3 linked regions of the Homo sapiens genome follow. The protein of the gene in region 2 interacts with the protein of the main gene of each other region in a pairwise test. Each region holds a gene or a part of one and is shown on either strand. Other genes may lie near its edges.

Region 1 (7,032 bases), on a different chromosome or scaffold from region 2:
TCCATAATTGAGAAATGCTCCTGATTTTTTCAGTGAATCTGGCCTCGTGGAGCTGCAGGAGGCCCCCACCAGGCCCCCACCCCTTTCCAGGCCTAGAGGAAAGGCCACCTCCCAGCCCAGTCCTTCCACAACACGCTGCCTTCATCTCACTTGGGGTCAGAGGCAGCCACTCTGCGGTCCTGGGCCCCAGAAATCCAGAGCTCTCTCCCTCTGCCCTCACTTAGGCCACTCTGGCTGGGGCTTCATGCCCACCTTTCCAGACTCTGGGCTCTGGTGTTCCGTGCTCCTCACAGCACTCCTTACCCCTCCTGTTTCTCCACCTGCAGCTGCCTCTTCCCCCCCTTGTCCACAGAACTCCTCCTGGTCCTGCAGCTCAGTTCCATGGCAACCCTCTGTGACTCCTCAGGGCCCATGCAGGGCCTGAGGCCTCAGAGCAAGCTCTCAGCAACTGAGCCCCAAGTTGGCACCTAGAGAGAAATTCGACCTCCTTAGCCTGGGCCCCAAACAGAGAATCCAAGAGAGACCTCAGTCACTCAATAGCACGGTGGGGATGTCCATTTTGGTGGCACTTTCTTGGATCAGGCTGGAGCAAGCAGTGGGGAAGGTCAGAGCAGGCAACAATTTCCATAAATGTTTGGGAAACAACATTTCCTCTTGCTTTCAGAGGGGGAGAAGAGTTGGAAAGGAGACAGGCTCTCCTCCCTGCCATCACCACCCCAGCTAGCACAGAAAGCTCCTGGGGCCATTCTGGGGAGTGGGGGTCCCCTGTCCCCTGGAATCTCCCCACAGCCTGTCTCACCCCCACCCAGAGGAGACAAAGACAGGTTTTCAGAAAAGCCAGGAAGAGGAGCCAGGAGGAGGGAAACAATTGCTGTCACTGTGCAGAGAGTCACATCATGGAAAGCAACACGAAACTAGGGTGCCAGGAGGGCTCACACCATGGCAGAATCAGGAAGGCCGTCCTGGGGAGGGGGGAATCTTCCTCATCCTTATATCACTATGTAAGTTTGGGGCCAGGGTTGGCTCCATGGGTGCACCACCAGTGAAGTCTCATAGGATGCTGCACTGGAGTGCAGCGATGCCATCAGAGATCACTGCAACCTCAAGCTCCTGGCCTCAAGAGATCCTCTTGCCTTGGCCTCCCAAAGGGCTTGGATTATAGGTATGAGGCACCGTGCCCAGCCAATAGTTTTATCTTTGAATTTGTGTTTTAAAAGTGAAGTCTTGTGGGACAATGGAGTATGGACCAGGGGCTCTTGAATGGTCCTACCTCCCTCTGTCTCCCTACAACAGGTTCTTGGCCCACCTCTCTGCCCCTGGGAGCCCCTTCTGACACCTGCTCCAAGCCCCTGGGTGGCAGCAACTGGAGGGAGAGGACAAGCCTCTTGCTCACCCCCAACCCAGGTACCTACAGGTGGCACTGAGGTCGTAATATTCTTGGGGGTTATCACCCCACCCCACCAGCAGGACATGGTACATCGGTCCAATGGCCGGTAAGAAAGGTACCGCAGCCATTGGTGGGGTATGCACATGCCCAGAATCATGGAGCGAGGCCTCTGGATGCCTATAAAGGTCTGCATGAGCATCCCCATTCCCCAGGGAGTGGAAATTAAATAGCAGATAAAAATTACCATAACAAGTTGAAACATGACAGAAGAAAGGAAAAAGCATTATATTTGAGTAACTTAAATCGCACTTTGTTCCTGCTCTTTGAACATGGGGCCCCACATTTTGCACTGGGATCCGCAAATTATATAGCTGGTCCTAGTTAGGGTTCATGCATATGAAGTTCTGTTTCAATTCCAAACCTCTCTCCTCCCACTCCTCAGCTGTGTTAGAACCTCCAAGCCTCGCTAAGTGGTGAAAACGGACAGAAAAACCCCAGGTGGCAACTACAGAGGCTGAGGAAGACCTGGGCCATTTCCCTCTCCAGCCTTGCTCTGTGCTCCTGACTTTTCTTACCAAATGAACGATGCTGACAATAGGCTCTGATGGCAACATCAGGCCCTTTCATCCTCAAATAGGCCAAACACAAGCTTGGAATAAGGCAGCCTTGTGCCTCGGAGCTGCAGATGAAAGGAGAGTGGGGTCAGAGGAGCAGCCCTCAGAGACCAGGTGTCAAAACAAAAGGAACAGCTGAAGCCAGGGGGAGAATGAAGCTGCCTGAGGAAGAAAGGGGAGCGCAGAGGTTCTAAATTAAGGAGCCAGGACATTTGTCTAGGTCTCCATGGGAGAAAACTGCAGCTTATACCTCCAAAGGATAAGGCTGTCAGCTGGAGAAAATGGGAAATCAAAATTGTTGAAAGGCAAAGGATTAGAGTTTAAAATGGACCTGATTTGACTATTTTTCCTGCTGTTCACAGCCCGTCTTTCTGTCCCTTGCACAGAGACAGCCCATACTCAGGGAATCTGCCTACTTGAAGAACATGCTGGAAACTCAGGCAATCCAGATCTGGGCCAGGTTTCTCCCACAGAACTTGTGGTCCTAGAAGGCTCTCTTTTTAGAAAAAAAAAACAAGAACTAATCCTTCTCCACTGAGAATAAATAAAGGCAACAGGGTTTGTTGTTCATGATTTACAACCTGGTATCCCTGGAAAGTAGGTGATGGGGGCAGAATCATAATCTGCAAAGGCCTGAACACATTTCCCCAAGAAAAAGTCACTCAGCCTGTTTCTTAATCAGTGCAATTTGTTTGGTCAGAGCAGGCCAGTGGGGCGGTTTCTTTGTCAGCCAAGCTATAAGGGACACTACAGTATGGTTAGAAATGTAGCTACCAGAGAAAAGTCCGTTAGAGAGATTCATTCCTCTTAGGAAGAGTGAGGTATATGATTGGAAGAAATATTTTGATGGGAGAGGGGGAGAAGGAGGCATGAGCCTGCTTCCCAAGGGTCTTGTTCATATAATACAGGTGGCCACTAAGCCTCTTTATTTATTTTTATTTATTTATTTTTTGATATGGAGTCTCACTCTGTTGCCCAGGTTGTGGCGCAATCTCGGCTCACTGCAACCTCCGCCTCCCGGGTTTAAGCGATTCTCCTGCCTCAGCCTCCCAAGTAGCTGGGATTACAGGTGCCCACCACCATATCCAGCTATTTTTTTTTTTTTTGTATTTTTAGTAGAGACAGGGTTTCACCATGTTGGCCAGGCTGGTCTCAAACTCCTGACCTCAGGTGATCCACCAGCCTTGGCCTGCCAAAGTATTGGGATCACAGGCGTGAGCCACCGTGCCCAGCCAGTCACTAAGCTGCTTTCTAAGAAAGGTGGTTTCTGGAAGTTGAATGTGTCTGGAAAGCAAGAGAACTGCTAAAGAAAACAGAGGGAGACTAGGGTGTGGCACTCAGGGCCTCTTTCCATGCCCCTCTCATACACCACACTCGGCCACTCTTAAACCTCTTAAGATCTCTTAAAATGTGAGTTCCATGTTGGGAAATGGAAGACAGGGGGTGGGGTCAGTTTTCCATGAAAACTAGGGAAAATTAGATGTGATGCAAAGACTGGGGATTTTGAAGCCAGACAGCCCCTAGCCTTGCCGCTTGCCATCTACCAACCGTGTGATCTTGAGCCAAGGTCTTCATTGATCTCTGCATCTCAGTTTCTCATCTGAATAATGAGGATGATTAGAGACTTCCTTTGACATGATAAAATATCTCTAAGAAGGAAACACTAGGCCTTCCACAGAAATTAAGAATGAGAAAAAGATGCCCGCTCTCTCTCGTTGGTTAGAGGCAGTAGTCAATATGATTAGACAAGAGAAAGTACTTGGTATAAGAATTGGAAAGAAAGAGGGAAAAATTTGGTCTTTCTGGAAATCCCAGAAGGAACAATGTAAAAACTATACGACAAAAAATAAGATGATTTAGTGAAGTAGCACGTTATAAAATAACATCAAAAAGCAATGCTGAGGCTGGGCATGTGGGCAAATGCCTGTAATCCAAGTACATTGTGAGGCCAAGGCAGAAGGATCACTTGAGCCTGGGAGGTTGAGGCTGCAGTGAGCCATGATTCTACAACTGCACTCCAGCCTGGGTGACAGAGCAAGACCCTGTCTCTAAAAGAAAAATAAATAAATAAATGCTGCTGGGCATGGTGGTACAAACCTGTAGTCCCAGGTATTCAAGAGGGTGAAGCAGGGGGATTGCTTGAGCCCAGGAGTTCAAGACCAGCCTGGGCAACAAAGCAAGGGCCATCTCAAAACAAATAACAAACAATGCTATTTATATATAAACAAAAAGATAAAAGAGATGAGAAAATCTTATTTATGATAGCGTAAGATGAATCACCTCTAAACTTCAGAAATGTCCAAAGTCTATATTAGACAACAATCAAATCTATCTGAAACACACAAAATAGTCTTGAACAAATGGAAAGAAACACCATGCACTCAAATAGACTCAATAGCATAAAGATGTCTCTTCTCCCTAAGTTAATGTATCAATTTAATGCAATCCTAATTTTTAAAATTCCATTTTTTTTTCTAGAGTTAGATGAGTTGATTTTAAATTCCCTTTGTAAGAACAGAAAGACAAGAATGGCCAGGAAAGAAAAACTAAGAAAGAGTGGAGGGGAGGAGGCTGGGGAGGGGACCAGCAGCCCCGCCAGACATTAACATATTATAAAGTCTCTGTAATTAAAATAGTTTAGCGTTGGCACAAAAAAGATGAGAAAACCATGGAACAGAATAGAACATTCTATAGTAAGCTCTACTGTGTTTGGAAATTGAGTATTGATGAAGGCAGCATTTGAAACCAATAGAGGGAAGGATGGACTTTTTAATAAGTGATATTCAGACAACTAGATAGTCATAAGGAAAATAATAAAATTAGATCCATTTCTTGCTGTACCCTAGGGTCAGTTCTAAATGTATCCTAGATATAAAATCAAAAATGAAACCATACAAGTAGAAAACATAGGTGAATTCCTTTATAACTTGGATGTGGGAAAAATTTTTCTTGTTACAATTCAAAATACAAAAGCAACAAAGGAAAATATTGATAAATTTGATTAAGAAAAATTTTAAAATGTTGCATTTCAAAATATCACCATAAGCAAAATTAAAAGATAAATGACAAACTAGAAAAAAAAATGCAATGTAGGATACAAAAGGTTAAAATAGCCCTATTTTATACACAGCATTTAAAATTTGAGGTTAAAAAAAGCCGATAGCACTCTTTTATTTTTAAATGTTAGAGATATGAACAGACAGTTGACACAAAAAATAGATGAAAATGGCTCCTAATGTCTCAACTGCACTCATAATAAGAGAAATTTTTAAAATCTACCTGAGATACCACTTTTACCTATCCAATTAGCAAAACTCTAAAAGTATGTCAAACTATTTGTTGGTGAAGCTCTAGGGAAACAGGCAAGTTTATACAGTGTTGATGGGAATAGAAAATGTTACAACCCCTATGGAGAAAAATTTGGCAACATCTAGACAAATTATATAGGCATTTATGTATACATAATTTGACCCAGCAGTCCTGTTTCTAGGACACACTCCCAATGACACACTGGCAAAAATATGAACAAGAAGTATGTACAAAGCTGTTCACTGCAATCCTATCTGTAATACCAAAATACTGGAAAAATCCAAATACCTCCCAGGAGGGGACTCGTTGAATAAACCATGATGCATCTGCAAAGGAACAAGAAATCGCTCTATAGCTACTATGGAGTGATGATCTCCAGGATATGTTATTGAGCTAAAAGGCAAGATGGAAAGAGTGTGTATTTCATTCTACCATCTAGCTAAGAAAAGGGAAGGATATGAATATATACATACATATGTGTTTACATTGAAAAAATGGAATAAAACAAACCATAAGTATTTTTAAATGTTACTTATAGGAGGGTGGAGGGGAAAAAGTAGCAGGGAAAGGTAGGGCACTAGAGTTCTTCTAATTTATCTTGTTATGTGGAGATGACTTTGGAACCATGAAAATATTTTACAGAATTGTATAACAAAAATAGATTTCAGAAAGCCAATTCTAAGAATCAAAAATAAAAAGAAACAAATGAATCCAGCTATGTACCAAGTTGATAGCATAGTCACACGAAGAAGAACTATTCCAAGTGGCTTTTTAAACCACAGGAATTTAACTGTACATTCCTAGTGGAGATGCAAAAGACAACAGAAAAAAACCCAACAATTTTTCAGTAATCACATTGGTGGTGGTAGCACTGGCACTGTTATTCTGACACTGGTGTGTGTGTGTGTGTGTGTGTGTGTGTGTACTGTGGGACAGAGTAAGAGAGTAACTATATTTGTGTTATTGAAAACTGAGACTTGAATGTGAGTGAAAGGAGATACAGTTGTAAGATGCATGACGTTTAGTGACAATTCTTTAGTCTTGAATTTAAATCAGAATTATCAATATAAAGTCATGATATATGTGATCATGAAAATAAATATATGCCTATTTCCAAGTCTGACCACTGAAAAGATCTAGAAGCAATGGCCAACTTAGCGACAATGAACATTTTTAGCCTCAGATTTGGGTCTCTAACAACCATCTTTCACTAAAAGAATGGGGGGCTCCTTGTAGAAATGGCTGAATCCAGGTTCGAGGATAGGAAATATTCAAGACGAGTCTGAAACACCTTGTCATACCAGAAAGCAAGGACGCTATGAAAAACTACTACAGTCATGTCAGAAGACTTAGGAGTCAATTCAAAGAAGCTCCCACTAACCAAAGATGGTTGGGAATCAATAAGAATATTATCAGGGCTTCCAGTAAGGTGAACAAGAAGACATCCATGTGCTGGGAGGGTGGCTACCCCAACTCCATGGGGACAGAACTCCTGTGCTCAGGACTCTTCTACACCTCATGCTGTGGAATCTAAAGCAACAGCAAAGCTGAGGTCCAACTGCCATAAGGATGGACACCAAGGAGGCTGCACTGGGGAGAAAAAGAAGTCAAGATAAGCAACATGAACCATAAAGCCCGGACCGTGGCGGGTATGAAAGAACAAGAAAGGCGGGATCAGGAAATTCAACAGGACGAAGTTGCCTTCCCACCTAGCTCTCTTCT
Region 2 (7,032 bases):
TGAGAAGCGTGACATGGTATCTCATTGTGGTTATGATTTGCATTTTTCTAATGATCAGTGATGTTGAGTTTTTTTCATGTGATTATTGGCTGCATGTATACCTTCTCTTCAGAAGTAGATGTTCATATCCTTTGTCCACTTTTTAATTAGGTTGTTTTTTTCTTGTAAATTTGTTTAAGTTCTTTATGGATGCTAGATATTAGGCCTTTGTCAGATACAAGTTTGCAAAAATTTTCTCCCACTCCGGAGGGTGTCTGTTTACTTTGCTGATAGTTTCTTTTGCTGTGTAGAAGCTCTTTAGTTCAATTAGATCCCATTTATCAACTTTTGCTTTTGTTGGAATTGCCTTTGGCGTCTTCGTCATGAAATCATTGCCGACACCTATGTCCTGAATGGTACTGCCTAGGTTGTCTTCCAGGGTTTTTATAGTTTTGGGTTTTACATTTAAGTCTCTAATCCATCTTGAGTTGATTTTTGTGTATGGTGTAAGGAAAGGGTCTAGTTTCAATCTTCTGCATATGGCTACCCAGTTATCAAAGCACCATTTACTGACTAGGGAATCCTTTCCCCATTGCTTGTTTTCATCAGGTTTGTTGAAGATCTGATAGTTGCAGGTGTGTGGTCTTATTTCTGGGTTCTCTATTCTCTTCCATTGGTCTATGTGTCTGTTCTGGTACTAGTACCATGATGTTTTGGTTACTGTAGCCCTGTAGTATAGTTTGAAGTTGGGTAGCATGATCCCTCCAGCTTTGTTCTTTCTCCTTAGGATTGCCTTGGCTATTTGGGTCTTTTTTGGTTTCATATAAATTTTAAAGTAGTTTTCTTTAGTTCTCTGAAGACTGTCAATGGTAGTTTAATGGGAGTAGCATTGAATCTATAAATTGCTTTGGGCAGTACAGTCATTTTAACAATATTGATTCTTCCTATCCATGAGCATGGAATGTTTTTCCATTTGTTTGTGTCATCTCTGATTTCTTTGAGCAATGGTTTATAGTTTTGCTTGTAGAGATCTTTTGCCTCCCTTGTTAGCTAGATTCCTAGGTATTTTATTCTTTTTGTGGCAATTTTGAATGGGAGTTTGTTTGTGATTTGGTTCTCAGCTTGACTGTTGTTGGTAGATAAGATTGCTAGCAATTTTTGCACATTGATTTTGTATCTCAAGACTTTGCTGAAGTTGCTTATCAGCTTAAGAAGCTTTTGGGCTGAGAAGATCCTCCTACAATTATTTTAAACATACAGCAATTTTGCAAAAGGAACACCAATCTTTAAAAATTAAAAAAAGTTTAAATTATCACATATAATATATATATCAAAATATTACCATTACTAACATTACCAATAATTTATGTGTGATGATAAAATTGGGGTTATGACTTTTAAAACAATTCTTACATTTTAGGACAAGCGCTGAAATATTTATTAAATTATGTCTGAGATTTGATTTAAAATAAAGACAAAACAAGATTAGCAAAGAGTTGATAAATTGCTGAAACTGGATGATGGGTATGTTTGTAAATGTTTGAAATGTTCCATAATAAAAAGTTATTTTTAAAAAAGATTGCCAAATAATTCACTTATAAATAATCAAAAACTGGCTCTATGAGTAGGGCTCATTACAATTTTTCTGTTAAACAAACTGCAATTTATTAGACCTTCAGCTAACAATTCAAACCTAATAATGACAACGAAGAAGTCCTGACAAAAAAAGCATTAGGTCACGGTATGCATTTACCTAGAAATCCTCTACCTGCTTCCTATTCTACAGTTTGCATACACACTATAAAAACATATGTGACTCAGAAGCGCAAATAGGCATACTATATAAGGCACTGGGATAGGAGACAATTTGCTTTAATATTGACTCAACTTTTGCTTGTAAACAAAGAAATGTACTTGTAGACTCTTTTCTAAATCTGAGAACTTTTAATACTTATTCAAATTTCTGATAAAGATCTGGTATAAATTTTAATAGATAACAAAGAAAACTTTGCTTTAAGAAAATTAAAAATAAGTCTAATGTTTTGAAGTTTACATTTTTCTTGGCTAGGACAATTTACACTGTCCCCTCAACTCTCATACTGAAATAGAACATTGAAAAGCACATTATATCAATAAATAATTAATAAGTGCTCACAGTGTTCCTAATCCTGTGCTAAGCAAAATGAAGGTACAAAAAATCAGTATAAGAAAATCCCTGTTCATATATGTTCCTTCTAGTTGGGGAAGAATACAAGATATAAGTCATTTAACAGTTAGAAAATCATAAATAAAACTAACAAGAGTTAGATGAGTTAGAGATGCAAGTGTACAAAAACTACATGCACTTATTCAAAAATGGCGGCTTTGTATCATTCTTTATATTGTCTTCATTACCTAGAGCAAAACAGGTACATTAAAAAGAAGTGGCATAAGAACATTTTCTTATAATAAAATTTCACTTTTTTAAGGTATAAAGGAATAAACATATTTTTTTGAGATGGAGTCTCGCTCTGTCAGCCAGCCTGGACTGCAGTAGTACAATCTCGGCTCACTGGAACCTCTGCCTCCAGGGTTCAAGCGATTCTCCTGCCTCAGTCTCTCAAGTAGCTGGGGTTACAGGCACCAGCTACCACGCCTAGCTAATTTTTGTATTTTTAGTAGAAATGGGGTTTCGCCATGCTGGTCAGGCTGGTCTCAAACTCCTGACTTTAGGTGATCCACCTGCCTTGGCCTCCCAAAGTGCTGGGATTACAGGCATGAGCTACTGTGCTAGACCCAAGAATAAATTTTTAAAATAGATTCTGTTTACATAACTCATGTATTTTGGATTAGGGCAGAAATAATACTCTAGATTATACTTCAGTCAGAAAGTATTCACATCCTTTACTTAATTACACCATTGATAATTCATCTGATATTCTATCATTCAATCAGAGTCTTCTCCAGCTGGAAGACAGCTGAAAATATATTAATAAATAATATTTTAGCTTAAGTCTCCCTTAGTGATAGAAACACTGTAGCTCTAAGTGCATTAGATTCAATTTGCCACAGCTGCTCAAAGCAGATAATGGCAGAAAAATTATCTTTCAAGAAAGAGAAAATATTCAAAATATTAACTGAAAACCAGATTCTACGTGTAGGGACTACCAATTATTGGATAATTCATACTTGGTTACAGAAATATAATGTACATAAATGAATCATTATAACCTATCACTACTGCTAATGTAGGCTCTTCATATGTTCCCATGTTTTAGGAAGACCAGAACACAATTAAGAGCAAATGTAGATAACTGCATAAGATAATCTTCCTAAATCACTACTCTTCTGTTTAGGAAATCCGGCAGAATTAGAAATTAGAAATATAAAGAGAACACGTATTTAATTTTATATTTCTATCCTATTGTTATAACTTCAGGCATACTGCCCAAAAATATATGGCATGCACTGTTAAAAATCAATGAACTCCAATATCTAACTAGAATGTTCATCAGGTGCCAATCAGAAAAGTGAAAACTGTATATTGGATTAATTAGATAACTCTTAAACAATATGATATTTTCTTTGTGGTTGCATACCTTTCCTGAGGTCATAAACCTGCCACTGATATCAACGCCAACAGCCTCTGCAGATATTTTCTCATTGCCCAAAGGAGGTTCTGACTTACCAGAACTGATTTTCTTTCTTTGTTGTGATGGAATCTAAAAAAAAAGGTATTAGTCAAAATAACAAATTTTGTGTGAAAGCATAATTATATATTAAAATTCCATTAACATTTAAATTTTCATATATGAAATATAGCTGACAAATAATGAGACTCTAATGAGACTACATGACTTTTAAAAACTAAGAAGTAATGAAAATGTATTATGTTTGAACTATTAGTTTAACACTAGGAGTTCCCAGTCACAGGTGTATAAAACAAGAGAGTAGTATTTAAAATAAACAACAAGCTTTATAAGGTTACTCAAATCTTTGAATAATACAGTAATTACACTATGAAATAATTTGCTGTCTAGGGTTTTGATTTTATACATTAAAATACTGAGCCATCTATTAATAGCATACATCAGCATTAATATCTATTCATAAAATTACCTTCTGAAGACTGCTTAATTCCTTGTGCTTTTTCATCACACAATTCAAAATATCACAAACAATTTGGATTTTCCATTCTGCAAACCCACATTGGATAAACTGCTTTTTTGTCAAAATTGGTTTATAATTAAATTGATCACGAAGAAGCTGCAGAGGAAACAGACTCTTGTAATAATTGGGAGCAATTTATTTCTAAAATTCCAAATGATAATGCCCACCTGGTCAGGGGAATAATGGCCACCTTTGAGAGGACAAGGAAAACCAAGCCATTAACTAAAGAGTACTAAAGTAATTCATAGGGCTGGTGTTAAGTCATGATCCAGTAAGACAGGTATCAGGTGGAAAACAGGTAGCAAAGGATATGCTGGAGAACAGATGTCTGTCCAGAGAGATGGAAAAATATAGTCAATCATCAAAAAGTGTAAATATCTTCAGAGATATTAGAAAAACTTCTTAGTTCACTAGAATACCATACCAGAGTCAGAAACTATAGTTCTATTTGTTTATAACTCTTCCACTATGTGATTTTTGGATACGTCAGTAGGCCTTTTGGTCTCAATTTTTCATTTGTAAAATGAAAAAAAACACACTAGATCAGTAGTTTCCTAAATCTACTCTGTGGAGCTCTAGAATTTCTTAAAAGTGCCTCTTAGGCTTCCATGGATGTCTTCTGGGATCAAAAGCAAGAAAGAGAAAGATTAAACAGAGACTACATATAAAAGCTCCCATTTCATTGACTGCAACTCTGCTTTTTTTAAAAGACTATTTGAGGCTGGGTGCGGTGGCTCATGCCTGTAATGCCAGCACTTTGGGAGGCCAAGGTGGGCAGAGCACAAGGTCAGGAGATCGAGACCATCCTGGCCAACATGGTGAAACCCTCTCTACTAAAATACAAAAAATTAGCCAGGCGTGGTCACGGTGCACGCCTGTAGTCCCAGCTACTCAGGAGGTTGAGGCAGGGGAACTGCTTGAACCCAGGAGGCGGAGACTGCAGTGAGCCTAGATCGTGACACTGCACTCCAGCCTGGTGACAGAGCAAGACTCTGTCTCAAAAAAAAAAAAAAAATAGACTACATTTGATAAGTGGGTTTTTACCATTAAAAACTAACTTTAATACAAACCACAGTACTTAAGCAAAAATTAATGATAAAAGCAGGGTTTTAAAAAAATCAAATAAGAGATTAAATTCAGTATACACATAGTACAAGTATAAATACTAGGGTAGATACAATATAAGACATGCTCTCAGACCTCAAAGAATATATCAGTTTAATAAAAAAAAAATGTCAGTAATAGTTCCTTCTTACAAACAACTAAATTAACATATAATTCTAAAAAACTGTAAGTTTTATTGAATATAATTACATTACTCTCTAATTTCTGCCAGTATATCAAATTTTACTAAAATTTGATTAAAAAGGGCAAACAATAGCCAACAACAAATATTTACCAGTTGCTGTATTTATTAGAATAGGTAACATTCAAAAAGCAAACATGAATTGCATCTTGATTTCAATAGAGACTACATTTAAATGAGATAAATACAAATGAAAATATCCTGTCAATTGTATATGCTGCATATATTTAAGAAGTTATGACTAAATCATTAATTTTTAAAAATCATTCAATAACTAATAGTTATTGTTTGATAAACTCAAAATACCTTATAGACAGCATCTATAAAGCGCAAGTCATTTTTTGCTATGAGCTCTACATTGGATTCCATTATAAGTTCTGTTACATAAGGTGAGTATGAGGTAAAAGAATAGCTGATGATGGGCAAAGATGCTGCTGGGTCTCCCTTTATCAAACTGTTAGGAAAAAAAGAAAAATATTTTTAATAAGCATTTAATAAGCATAATTCCACAAAGTTGGATAATCAAGAAAATATTAGAAATGTTTATAATAATTTAAAACTTAACACTATAGCTATAATAATTAGGTGATACATGAGACTTTCTAGATTCCATTCCCCATTTGAAACCAGTCTAGCCAGACTACTATGAAATACCACTGTTCGTCTGCTCAAAAAACTTACTATAGGTCTCTAGTACCAACTATTTACCATTGATTTTCCAAAGCTTAGTCTTACGTGATCTACTCCATTTTCTACTACTAATAAAAGCAATGTACCATCTTACAAAATTGAAGTACACTTTATGGTTTTGCAAACACTTGTTCTATTACCTCCTTTGCTCTCTACCACAAACTTCCAAAGGTAAATATTATGAATTCTAAGTTACAGATGAGGAAGATGGGATGGGAAAAAGCATGAACTGTGACTTGGTTGACCAGTCTATTACTTTTCACTTACTGCTCCTTCTAAATCGTATATTATTACCTATGTTAATTCCACCAGTCTAGAAAGGTATCCCACTCTTCTTTGCTTATCCAATTATTATTTATTTTTTACAAATCATTCATCAAATCTCAAGCTTCCCATGAAGCTTTCCTCAACTTTCTGATCTATACTGATCTCTCCAAGAAAGACTCCCAGGCTACTCAGTATCTGCTGTGTCTTTATCTGTCTGGTAGTGTTTCCTGTCTTATTTTCTCAATGTGAAGTACCTTCACTGATTTTCCCACAACAAAGCACAGGAGGTATTTGTTCAATTTGCCAGTTACATTTGTTCAATTGCAGTATTTTGTACTTATATAAAGCAAATGTTTTCCAAAAAATTCAAGATGTTCACATAAACATCCCCATCTCCACCCAAATTTTTAGTAAGACAGAGAACAAATACATGATGATAGCACTGCATTTTGTTTTACTGGACAAATATGAATTATTTCTTTTATGTTTCTTTGAAATACTGTAATATTTCACCCAATCAGAAAACTCCTCTGGCAACCTTGTCTATCTGAAACACAGTCCAAAAACAGGAAATGAAAAAAAAAATACCTTTGAACAGCAAAATCTGTCCATTTTATGCACACTATACATAGATGATAGCC
Region 3 (5,738 bases), on a different chromosome or scaffold from region 2:
TGCCCAAGCTGGTCTTGAACTTCTGACCTCATGTGATTGGCCTGCCTCGGCCTCCTAAAGTGCTAGGATTACAGGCATGAGCCACCGCGTCCGGCCCTGAGGTCTAAACAAACATACAAATATTTTTTCTACTCAGCAATTTGGGATCCTTCCTCGCCATACTGATAGATGTCCAGGGAAAATGTAAATCCCCTGATGTTTTTCCAAAATGCTAGCGCCCCATTAACCTAACAGGTGGTTGAAAATAAGCAATTTCATGGAAAGCATTGTGGTGGCTGTAAATCCGATGGTAACCTTTTTGACCTCATCCATGCCAACTCTGCCCCAGGAATGCTATTAAAATTCTCCTTCGGTGATTCGTGTCTGGGTGAGTTGATAAGACAGAGTAAAGATTCCTAAATGTAGAACTATGACGACATCTAGATTGTTCTGCTTTTAAGAATAGGAGTGTTATCGATAAGACCAGCTTGCACTTTAATACCAAAAGAGAACTCATTCAATTTTTTTAAGTTGACTTTTAATGAGTAAAAATAAAAACCCCTCACAAGTCAAGTTTACTCAGTAGCCAATAGCCTAAAATGAAATTTTAATTTTGCTTGTTCACATAATTTTGGGTTTTTTTTCCCCTTCTCTGTTCTGACTTCTCTCAGTCGAGCCTTGGCGACAGGAAAAGAAAAAAAAAAAAGGCGTATTTCTCTTCATGCCCCTCTCACCCCAGTAAAAAGTAGGAGAAAAAGAATACACAGATTAAAACAGAATTGTATTATACATTCACTTTTGAGTTATCAGGTGAACTTAATTCACTCCAGAACAATCACAGAGACAAAGACAGGCAAGCTGGGTTTTAGGCTCTCACCCTTGACACTCCAAATTGTGCTGGGAGTGGCCAAGGCTTTGTTAGAAATGGCCCTAAGGGTATATACACTGCCTCAGCTGCCTTGGGCTTCATGCCCTGGGCTCCTCCACCAGGGCCAGCCCCAATAGGTCTTTAGTTCGAGGTAGAGGTTCTGCTGTTATTTCCCAGGTGAGCTAGAAGCAGGTGAGTAGCAAGCACTCTCTAAGACTGCTTTTTATTGTGTGGTGACAAGTTTCACAATTGTGCTGATGATCCGGGATCCTCGAGGACACGTACACAGATCAATGCTTGGGTTTTTAATTTTATCCTGGAGAAGCTGATCAAGTTCGCAACGAAGCTCCTTTACCAGTTCAGCCACCTAAAATGAAAGCTACAATATAAGCAGTGCTTGGAGGAACAGGCAGGATAGGTTATTGGAGGGAAATACCCAAGTTATGATTACCATTATTTAGATTTCTGGTACTAATTTTAACTCCATTAGGAGCAAAAACCCTAAATACATTTTCATTTTGTAATAGACTAAATGAGGTCCATTGTAAAAAAGTGCCTCTATCACATCTCATCTAAAGAAAAGATTCGGGCCAGGCGCAGTGGCTCACGCCTGTAATCCCAGCACTTTGGGAGGCCAAGGCGGGCGGATCATGAGATCAGGAGTTCAAGACCAGGCTGGCCAACATGGTGAAATCCTGTCTCTACTAGAAATACAAAAATTAGCGAGTTGTGGTGGCATGCGCCTGTAATCCCAGCTACTCAGAGGCTGAGGCAGGAGAATGGCTTGAACCCAGGAGGTGGAGGTTGCAGTGAGCTGAGATCGCGCCATTGCACTCCAGCCTGGGTGACATAGCGAGACTCTGTCCCCCCTGCTCCCCAAAAAAGAAAAGATTCAGTCTGGAAGTATGGCTTTTATATAGTGTTCTCCATATTAAAGTTTGGTCAATTTTTATGATTTATTCCACGAGGAGAAGCAGGAAAATGGGGAATTAAAAGTGGTAGAGAGGGCCGGGCCCGGTGGCTCACGCCTGTAATCCCAGCACTTTGGGAGGCCGAGATGGGCAGATCACCTGAGGTCAGGGGTTCGAGACCAGCCTGACCAATGTGGAGAAACCCCGTCTCTTAGTACTAAAAGTACAAAATTAGCTGGGATGGTGGTGCATGCCTATAATTCCAGCTACTTGGGAGGCTAAGGCAGGAGAATCGCTTGAACCTGGGAGGTGGAGGTTGCGGTGAGCCAAGATTGCGCCATTGCACTCTAGCCTGGGCAACAAGAGCGAAACTCCGTTTCAAAAAAAAGAAAAAAAAAGGAAAAGAAAATTTACTGATCACCGATCACTCCACTGCAGACCTTGTTGTCTCAAAAAAAAAAAAAAAAAAAAGGGTGGTAGATAGGCTGGGCCGGGTGGCTCACGCTTGTAATTCCAGCACTTTGGGAGACTGAGGTGGGCGGATCACCTGAGGTGGAAGTTCGAGACCAGCTTGACCAACATGGAGAAACCCCATCTCTACTAAAAATACAAAATTAGCCAGGCATGGTGGCACATGCCTGTAATCCCAGCTACTCGGGAGGCTGAGGCAGGAGAATTGCTTGAACCCAGGAGGCAGAGGTTGTGGTGAGCCGAGATCGCGCCATTGCACTCCAGCCTGGGCAACAAGAGCAAAACTCCATCTCAAAAAAAAAAAAAAAAAAAAGTGGGCCAGGCTCAGTGGCTCACGCCTGTAATCCCAGCACTTTGGGAGGCCGAGGTGGGCGGATCACAAGGTCAGGAGTTTGAGATCAGCCTGTCCAAATGGTGAAACTCCGTCTCTAATAAAAATACAAAAATTAGCCTGGCGCGGTGGCTCATGCCTGTAATCCCAGCACTTTGGGAGGCCAAGGCGGGCAGATCACCTGAGGTCGGGAGTTCAAGACCAGGCTGACCAACATGGAGAAACCCCGTCTCTACTAAAAATACAAAATTAGCCGGGTGGTGGCGTATGCCTGTAATCCCAGCTACTTGGGAGGGTGAGGCAGGAGAATCGCTTGAACACGGGAGGCAGAGGCTGTGGTGAGCCGAGATGGCACCATGGCACTTCAGCCTGGGCAACAAGAGCGAAACTCCATCTCAAAAAAAAAAAAAAAAAAAATAGCCGGGCTTGGTGGTGTACGCCTGCAGTCCCAGCTACTCAGGATGCTGAGGCAGGAGAATTGCTTGAACCCGGGAGGCGGAGGTTGCAGTGAACCGAGATTGCGCCACTGCACTCCAGCCTGGGTGACAGAGCAAGACTCCACCTCAAAAAAAAAAATAAATAAGTGGAAGATATTAGATGAATCAAAAATCTCTGTAGCTTTGGGATATACTGTATGCTTTATGGCATTTTGCTTATGCTGATGTTGTGGCACTGTAGACATCTTCCCAGCATCTGTTTTGCCCCTTCCCCACTGTATGGGAAACATACAGTTCGGACCCTGCTCTAACACAGGTTCACACTGTGAGCCCTGCCAGGGTGAATGGCTCAGGTACTCCAGGTATTCAAGTTCAGGACATCCCTTTGGTCACAGGGATTGGTTTAGGAGGGGAGCTTTGATTGAGCTTGTAGGCAAGAAAGTTTCTGGCTCTTCTTCTGGACCATATGCTGCATACATGTGATGCCAGGAGCTATTGCAGCCCTTTCGATACCACTAGGTTAACCACGTTTTTGTCACCACTGAACTGCTAAATCAAACCAACGTTGCCTGGCCTTCTTGACCTGGACTATCCAGTAAGGTAGCCACTAGTCACAAGTGGCTTATCTAATGTCTATATGAAATGTGGCCAGCCCAAACTGAGATGTGCTGCGAATATAAAATATATACCCGATTTTGAAGACTTAATATGAAAAGGTAATGTAAACTATCTTAATAATTTTATATTGATTACATGTTAAAATTAAAACATTTTGGATGTATTAGGTTAAATAAAATATATTAAGATTAATTTCATCTATTTCTTTTTACTTTTAAAAATGTGGCTACTAGAACAATTAAAATTACATATGTGGGTCACATTATATTTCTGTTGGACACTGCTGCTCTGGACTTTAAAGTTAAATATGCCAATCAATTTCTTTTAATGTTTGAGTTGGCATATCTGCTTCTTGTAACATAAGAATTCTAACAGATGCAGATATTAAAATGAAATTTTATTTATTTCTTTTTTTGGGACAGAGTCTCACTCTGTCACCCAGGCTGGAGTGCAGTGGTGCAATCATGGCTCACTGAAGCCTCGACCTCTTGGGCTTGAGCAATCCTCCCACCTCAGCCTCTGGCAGTTGGGATTACGGGTGTCCACCTGAAGTTTTATCTATCTATCTATTTATTTATTTATTTGAGACGGAGTCTCATTCTGTCACCCAGGCTGAAGTGCAGTGGTGCAATCTCGGCTCACTGCAACCTCTGCCTCCTGGGTTCAAGTGATTCTCCTGTCTCAGCCTCCTGAGTAGCTGGGATTACAGGCGCCCGCCACCACGCCCAGCTAATTTTTTTTTTTGTATTTTTATATATTCATTTTTTTGAGATGGAGTTTCCCTCTTGTTGCTCAGGCTGGAGTGCAATGGCGCAATCTCGGCTCACTGCAACCTCCGCCTCCTGGGCTCAAGAGATTCTCCTGCCTCAGCATCCTGAATAGCTGGGATTACAGACGCCCACTACCACACCTGGTTAATTTTTTAAAATTTTTAGTAGAGATGGGGTTTCACCATATTGGCCAGGCTGGTCTCGAACTCCTGACCTCAGGTGATCTGCCCACCTTGGCCTCCCAAAGTGCTGGGATTACAGGCGTAAGCCACCGCACCTGGGTGAAGTTCTGTTTCTTAAATATGTACTCTCCATGATATGTTTTTCACAGAGACTCCATATAGGGAATAATTGAGACCTGAGAATAAATGAAGAATTCAGACCCATTATCTTTTTCTCAAAATGGTAGTGGTGGAATCAGGGTGGTTTTTATTTACTTATTTTTGCTTATCTGTATTTTCTGACTTTTCTTTGGTGAACATCTATTATTTATATAACAATAAGGAAGGTCCAGCACCCTCACTTTACAGCTTCTGTCCTAGCCTTTTATACTAACCTCAGCCCGTACCAGACTTCCCCTCACAGTGTGCTTTCTGGAACTCTTACTAGGGCTCCACTCCTGGCTTCACTTCAGCCTCACTCTTTCTTAGTGTCTCATTGTAGACCATCATTCACTTTTTTTTTTTTTTTTTGAGAAGGAATCTCGCTCTGTTGCCGAGGCTGGAGTGCAATGGCACGATCTCGGCTCACTGCAACCTCTGCCCCCTAGGTTCAAGCGATTCTCATGTCTCAGCGTCCTGAGTAGCTGGGATTACAGGCACCCACCAACATGCCCAGCTAATTTTTGTATTATTAGTAGAGACGGGGTTTGACCATGTTGGCCAGGCTGGTCTCGAACTCCTGGCCCCAGATGATCTGCCTGCCTCGGCCTCCCAAAGTGCTGGGATTATAGGTGTGAGCCACTGGGCTCGGCCACCGTCATTCATTTTTAATTAGCTCTGTTACCTTGGTCCCTAGAGGAATGCCCTTGACTTCATAACTTCATATTGTCAAAGCCCCTCATGGCCTGAGCCTCATAAAACAGACCAATTCTGCCTTTACCTGATGGGAAGCAGCTACAAAACGGATCCAACCATCATCCAGGGAGACAACGAACTCTCCTCTTTGAAGCTGCACATTCACTTGGCCTCCTCCAAACAAGACCAGCGGGTACACAGACACCATGCTGCAGTCTCGGATGAATACTCGACTAGTTTTTATCTTCTCGTGGTACAACAGGTAGGGGCTGTCAAAGTGTCTCACCTGTAACAAAAAACCTCAGATGATGACAGTGATGTCACTGGCAACAAAAAG

Evidence for each region.
Region 1: the proteins of CEP44 (region 2) and BFSP2 interact in binary tests that used the Homo sapiens proteins (3 or more experiments, as listed by UniProt).
Region 3: the proteins of CEP44 (region 2) and DHX57 interact in binary tests that used the Homo sapiens proteins (3 or more experiments, as listed by UniProt).

Annotation. Positions count from the first base shown.
Region 1 is NC_000003.12:133,403,024-133,410,055, forward strand, and holds part of BFSP2 (phakinin), read left to right. Parts: intron 1-7,032.
Region 2 is NC_000004.12:174,300,895-174,307,926, reverse strand, and holds part of CEP44 (centrosomal protein of 44 kDa), read right to left. Parts: intron 5,889-7,032; coding exon 5,741-5,888; intron 4,225-5,740; coding exon 4,078-4,224; intron 3,681-4,077; coding exon 3,558-3,680; intron 1-3,557. UniProt on the Homo sapiens protein: Centriole-enriched microtubule-binding protein involved in centriole biogenesis. In collaboration with CEP295 and POC1B, is required for the centriole-to-centrosome conversion by ensuring the formation of bona fide centriole wall.
Region 3 is NC_000002.12:38,797,229-38,802,966, forward strand, and holds the end of DHX57 (putative ATP-dependent RNA helicase DHX57), read right to left. Parts: intron 5,688-5,738; coding exon 5,487-5,687; intron 1,227-5,486; coding exon of another isoform or gene 1,215-1,226; coding exon 1,071-1,214; 3' UTR 501-1,070; downstream 1-500. UniProt on the Homo sapiens protein: Probable ATP-binding RNA helicase.